Linked DNA regions of Homo sapiens. The protein of the gene in region 2 purifies or fractionates together with the protein of the main gene of each other region. This does not show direct contact. Each region holds a gene or a part of one and is shown on either strand. Other genes may lie near its edges.

Region 1 (3,500 bases), on a different chromosome or scaffold from region 2:
TACTATTTATGCAACGCTATGGAGAAATCCTCATTCTTACTTTCTATCTGCCCATTACTAGCAAAATACTAAGGCAAATGAGAAACATGTCCACTACCAAAAGTTTACATTTAAATTGCTTTATCAATATAGTAATATCAATAAAATACAAAGACAAACTTTATGTAAAATTTGTCCTGTATTTGTGGAATCTTTCTGGAAAAGCCAACTCAGTCATTTTTGCAACTAGGTATTTCTGTAATCTTAGAAATTTTTCCTATTTCTCAGGTGCTGCCAAAAATGTACACATCAAGAAATGTGAGTTTCTGAATATAACATTAAAACCACATTACTGTATTTGTCTTTGTGTGAAGCTGAGAAACCAGGCAAGTTACTTAAGGTCTCTATGGCTGATCCTTGTCTATAAACTGGAGTTAATAATAGAATCAATCTCATAGGGTTATCCTGAGGATAAAATAAGACGCTATATATAACATAATTAGCATAATATCTGGCACATAAAAAGCCACCCCATAAATGTTAGCTGTTATACATAATAAAATACATTTTCTATTCATTTAGAACGTAAGCTCCAGGAAAACAAAGATTTTTGTAGTTTTAGTCACTGTTACATCTCCAGCCTCTACAGCAGTATCTAGTATAAATCAGACTTTCAATTAATATTGCTCAATTAATCAATTTAGAAATGTGTCACCCATAAACTTTTTTGACTAAGATACTGCCACTGTGCCAAGCTTAAATTTTCCATTTATAACCAGTAGATATTATATAAAGTACAAAACTTAATAAAAAGCATCAACACATTAACTACACAAACTTCAACTTTAAAGTTTGTTCTACTCAAAAATAGCTATTATAGGCCGGGCGCGGTGGCTCACACCTGTAATCCCAGCACTTTGGGAGGCCAAGGCAGGCAGATCATGAAGTCAGGAGTTCGAGACCAGCCTGACTGACATGGTAAAAACCTGTCTCTCCTAAAAATACAAAGAAATTAGCCAGGCATGGTGGCGTGCGCCTGTAATCCCAGCTACTCAGGAGGCTGAGGCAGGAGAATTGCTTGAACCCGGGAGGCAGAGGTTGCAGTGAGCCAAGATTGTGCCACTGTACTACAGCCTGGGTGACAGAACAGGACTCTGTCTCAAAAAATAAATAAACAAATAAATAAAATAGCTATTATATGACATCATTCTGATTTCATTTCATTCCTGCAATCTCTCTCGTAAGACTTTTTTAAATGCTGAAGTTGAAGCTATTAATCAGCTGTTGATGCCAATAAAATAAACAGCAACTGAGCCATATTCCAGAGATGATGAGCTATTTTATATTTGATGAGTACATTTTCCACTGAAACATATTCAAAAGATCAGTATTAATTATTGCATCTATATAGTACAACTTACATATCTAAACACAAATAATAAAATGTGTTAATGTCCACTTCCCATTTGTTTGGAAAAAGAATGAGTAAAAGGCAGGTGAACATGAATTATTTTAAATGCTACTTCCTTCTTTGATTAACATTTGATTAAGTGTAGTGATGATGGTGCATGTGAAAGAGTTTGCCAAGTACCTACTCAAAGCTACCCTACTCTTCTTCCATTGTAAAAGCATCGGAAATTGGCTCGTGGACAGCCTGGCAGTTAGGTGTGACCATGAGACTAAGTTCTCATGAATGGAATGGGAGAGTAAGCGATACATCCTACTCTCACGCTAGTGCGTGGACCTCCTTCCTACCAGCTAGAACCTAGATATGGTTGCGACTTACCTTGATCATACAAATGGTACCCTGGAGCAGTGATGCCCCATAAATCTTTCTGAAGTAATGAGTATGTTCTGTATTTGTGCTGTCCAATACAGAAGCCACTAGCCAAATGTGACTATTAAGCACCTGAATGTGGCTAGTATGAATGAGCTAAATTTTAAATTTAATTTGATTTTAATTAATTTCCATTTAAATAGTCACATGTGGCTAGCAGCTACTGTACTGAACAGCACAGTTGTAGAATCATTCTGTTAGCTGAGTGGGTTCCAAGAGGATTTCCTTCCCTGGACTGTTAACGTAAGTAAGAAACTTCTAGCTTATTGAGCCATTGCATTTTGGGGTTTTTACATAGACTTCATGGTAACTAATACAATGATTTTGATATAATATGTGAAACTACTAATAAATACCTCTGAGGAGGGAAGTAGAACTGGTTAAGAGGAACACAAAAGTGGCTTTTCCTTTTAACTCTACATACTTCATTTAGTTTGAAGTTCTTTTATAGTACTTTCCTTATAAGAACTTTTTATATGTAAACCATCAAACAGAACAAAGAAACAAAAACAGGTTTCCTAACTCAGTCTTTCTACACGGTTCTGTATATAAATTTTTAGAAGCTAAGTAATATCACTTTAGAAAAAGTAATGTGTACATTCCAAGATTAAAAAGAAGCATGCTGGGAATTAACTTAATTGTATATTATTACATAAAGCTCTCTGAAGGCAATCTGTGTGTTTAAGACATCTTTGCATTCATTCCTCTGTCCTATACTGCTTAACCATACTGCTTTACTACTCATATATATATTATCTGAATGAGTATCACATTAAAACTGGAAAAAATTGAAGACAAACATACTATACAAGGTCTAAGAATTTCATTTCTGCAAGTGCTCCAATCAAGCCTGTTCCTTATGGAAAGGACTCCATAGTACCTCTGTAATTCGTTCCATCTCTCAAGTCAGGCTGAGATGCTAGTTGTTCCTTGACGCCATCTAACCGCTGTTGCAGTTCTTCTGATGTTATTTCTCCTAAAACAATGAAAAACTGCTCATTTAAGAATTCTGAATTAAGTTTTATGAGACCTCATGAAGGGTAAGACTAATCTTTAGTAACCTATAGAAGACAAATGTCTTATTACTTTCATATGTTCTGTAAATTGAAGACAGTTAAAAATATTCAACTGGTACAAATGTGCATCAATTCGGTTGTGCTTCATTTATTAATCTTTTATTAAAAATTATTAAAATAAGATTTAATTTGAATAGTTGGTAAAGTGCTGCCAGTTGATACACTTAGGAATCTATAAGCTATAACTGTGGATTTTTGTCAGTTAAAAAGAAATTAAGGGAGCATTTATAGAGAAAACTTCAAATATTTACTTGAATTTTATCCCAAATACTTCATTATATGGGTCATCAATATACAAACACACAATATATAAACATACAAATTTCCATTAGTTCATTTGTAAAAACTTTATGGAACACATTGGGCTTTGGGGGGAGCTATTAATTCAGCTGAATAAATAAATTATAATACCCCAAATGAGTTCAAATTGGGTTTTAAGTCATATTTTATTTGTATAAAAATTACAAATAGGACCATATATGTAAATACTTAACACCATTATGTACATTAACCTGTTTCTTAGTTTGGCATTTGTATAATAGTGCTCCATGTCCCCTATTTTCACCTTATAAAATACAGAAGCCAGTGATTTTCTACTTTATTATACT
Region 2 (3,500 bases):
CTCCATTTACCCTGATGTGATTAATATGCATTATATGCCTGTATCAAAATATCACATGTACTTTATATATACATACACCTACTGTGTGCCCACAAAAACTTAAAAAAAAAAAAAGAAATATCGTGACTGGATATTGCACTTAAGATCTTGGGAGTCCACTGCATGTGAATTTTGCTTCCATTTTTTAAATGATTCTTGAATATAGGGCAAATACTTAGGAAACCAGAAGCTATGAGATTGCGGATAATCACTTGAGTTCAGTATTACAAAATATGATTTTAATGACCCATTTTACAAATGTAAAAGTTAGTGTTCTGTCTCTGTAGAGTTGCTCATTCCCGATCAAGGTTCTGCAGGATACTTTGTGAACTATCTGGAGTTGACATGTACAACTTCAGGATGCCCTGTTTGATCAGTTGTAATTTTTGAGAAAAAAAGAGGTCAGAAAAACTGGTCTGAAGACTGGCTCATAGAAGCTCTAGAGCCTCTAGACTGTAGAAGAAACTTAGTTTTCTCATCTGAACTTATATTTGAAAAAGAGGTGATATATACCTTCAACAGTGTTTAGGCAGGTACGTACTACCAAATCTCATTGTCAAAACCAGGACAGTAACATTGAAATAACCACTTCGATGTGAAAGTAATTCTATAATTAACCCTGTTGTCTCTTCTTTTTTTTTCTTTTTCTTTTTTTTTTTTTTTGAGACAGTCTCGCCCTGTTGCCTAGGCTGGAGTGCAACGGCGCGATGTCGACTCACTGCAACCTCCGCCTTCCAAGTTCAAGCGATTCTCTTTCCTCAGCCTCCTAAGTAGCTGGGATTACAGGCACCTGCCACCACGCCCAGCTAATTTTTGTATTTTTAGTAGAGACAGAGTTTCACCATGTTGGCCAGGCTGGTCTCGAACTCCTAATCTTCATGATCTGCCCACCTCAGCCTCCCAAAGTGTTGGGATTACAGGCGTGAGCCACCACACCCGGCCAGTGAACCCTGTTGTCTCTTAAGACACACAAGATCATGCCCTGTGAATACAGAGTGGAGGGGAGTGGTCAGGACATGAGGGTGAAGCCCATCCTGGACTGAGACCACCTAGAATCAAATTCCAGCTCTGCCAACTAAATCCTGTGCATTTCTGGGAGGCATTAGTGTACCCTGCCAAAATGTGGCTGTGATCTGGTGTAACATACCATCACCTCCAGCAACACCATATGGCAGACTACACCAGGATCTCCTCCTATGCCACTCTTATTTTTATTCTCTTAGGGTGATCTCTCCTGTTTTCATTATCCTGCACCCTGCACATTACACAAGTGTGCACACACAGTGGTAATCACACACATTTCTTCCATCTTTTTTCTCTGTGGTTTTCTCCCTTGTTTGACACTCCATTGCCAAATAATGAATAGCTATTTTGCTATCCAAAAGGAGCAGTTCAGTGCCAACATGTTTTCAAGCACCTGCCCTTCTGCAGGAAACTCGTCTTTCGTCTTTATTTCCTCTTTGTTGGAAGTAAATTTGCCCTCTTATTTGCTGACATTTTCAAACTTGTACCACTTCTTTCTCGCTATGGTAGATGACTGGAGGTAAACCTACTGCTCTTCTTTTTCTTTTTTTATGTAGAGTATAATTTATAATACTTTTGGTATTCCATTTTTATATATAAATTTAAATTTGAAACTTTTGATAAGTTTTAATTTTCAAATGACTAGTTTTTAGCAAATAAGTTGAAGTTTTATTATAATGGATTTGATTCTTCTTTTCCAATAGTAGCTTACTTATTTCGTTTTTAACAAATAATTTCTGTGTCTTTCTAAGATCATACTTACTTTTTGTTCATCTTTGTACAAGTTGATAGGAGTCAAATTCTACAGGCATGCCAGTATCCACTCCCTGTAATCTTCTGCAAAGTAGGTTTTTAAAAAGTTGGCAGTAGCACATCAAAACATTGTCTTTATGTTTCACTCATATTTTTCTTTAATTCTTGTGATTTACTAAAAGCTCACTGAACAGTTCTGTTTACTATATATTATAGTATACCATTCACCATTGTAATGCCAAAAACAGAATTTTGTGTGTCATTACAGCTATAATAGAAAGGAGCACTGAGAAGCCTGTGTCCTGGTCGTCCTTCCCGTTTTATGAATCAGAGAGGAACAAGACTATGTCAGAAAATTGTTGCATTGTGTTACTTTCATTGTAAATATCACAAAGTCATGTAAAGTTACTGGGATTCGATGATACATAAAAGTGGGGGGCAGTTAGTTCTATCTCTACACAGACTTTGATAGATGGACCCTCATCTACTGCTTGCTTTGACTGTGGCTAAAGTTTATGTTGGACTGAGACATTTGGGATTTGGAAATAAAGTTAAAGACTTCTCATACCAGTCACTTATAAGTTCTAGTAAGTAACTTGGGGGTGGCCGTGGGAACATGGGGTTAGGCAGTGGTAACAAAGAAATAAGCCCTATTCTCATGGAGCTTACTTTGGGAGTGGTGATACTCAACAGACTGTAATTTGAAGTAGAAGCAATTAACTTTGTCGATAGGTTCTTGGAGATACAACTTTAAACAAAATGAGTATATTGCAGCCTCTTTTTTCATCAATGTTATAATGAAACCATGTTGAAAGCAGTGGCATTATTTGAGGACCTGCTGTCTGTCGTTTCACTTAAAGTTAGTTTTAAAGAATGTATTGACCACATTAAGTGAGGATCTACTGTAATCTAGGGATGGCCCCTGGAGAAGGAAGGTAGCATTTAGGTTGAAGTTTGTGGGGATGGGGATAGGTAGGATTTGGAAAGAGAGAGGGGCAGAGAGTGCGCAGGGGAGCACTTAGGATGGAGGAAGTGGGAATATGCACAGAGATGAATGGTGGAGAGCAATCTGGTTTGACTTAAGATGTTACTTACATACGTGTGTAAAGTAGTAGGTTAATGGGCTTAACTTGAGAGGATATTTTGGGACCAGATTATAGGCAACTAAAGTTTTTTATATTTTTAGATAGTAAGAAACCATGAAAGTGTTTTGAGACAGAATGTTGAGAAACATGATGAAAATTGTGATTTGGGCAATTAATCTGGCCTTTGTGTAGAGATTGATTGGAGAACAGACACCATTAGCAACATGTTTTAGTAGTTTGGGTGCTATGCCAAAAACAACTGGAACAGTAAATGGAAAGAGTGGGACCAATTCAAGGTAAATGGGGTGGCCAAACATTTTGATGATTAGAGACTATCCTGATTTAGGTTTGAAGCATGGTTATTATTAGTGCCCATTTTTGCTTTTAAAAGTTTTCTGCTTTGGACAATAAATCATATGGTGACCCTAAAGATAGATTGCTGTAGCATTGATAGCACTTGCTAATTAGATTGAAAGGAGACAGGGATGGTGGTGTAAGAGAGCAGAATATACGGTTTTTTAGAAGTTATTATTTCACTGAGTTTTCATATTTTGAAGAATTAAGCATAAAATTTCCTTACCTAAATTCTGTAATCAAATC

What was found. Proteins that work in one complex are often made in the same cells at the same time.
Region 1: the proteins of QKI (region 2) and RNF6 purify together in Homo sapiens (affinity purification with western blotting; one study listed by BioGRID). This does not show direct contact.

Annotation. Positions count from the first base shown.
Region 1 is NC_000013.11:26,215,815-26,219,314, forward strand, and holds part of RNF6 (E3 ubiquitin-protein ligase RNF6), read right to left. Parts: intron 2,793-3,500; coding exon 2,697-2,792; intron 1-2,696. UniProt on the Homo sapiens protein: E3 ubiquitin-protein ligase mediating 'Lys-48'-linked polyubiquitination of LIMK1 and its subsequent targeting to the proteasome for degradation. Negatively regulates axonal outgrowth through regulation of the LIMK1 turnover.
Region 2 is NC_000006.12:163,557,718-163,561,217, forward strand, and holds part of QKI (KH domain-containing RNA-binding protein QKI), read left to right. Parts: intron 1-3,500. UniProt on the Homo sapiens protein: RNA reader protein, which recognizes and binds specific RNAs, thereby regulating RNA metabolic processes, such as pre-mRNA splicing, circular RNA (circRNA) formation, mRNA export, mRNA stability and/or translation.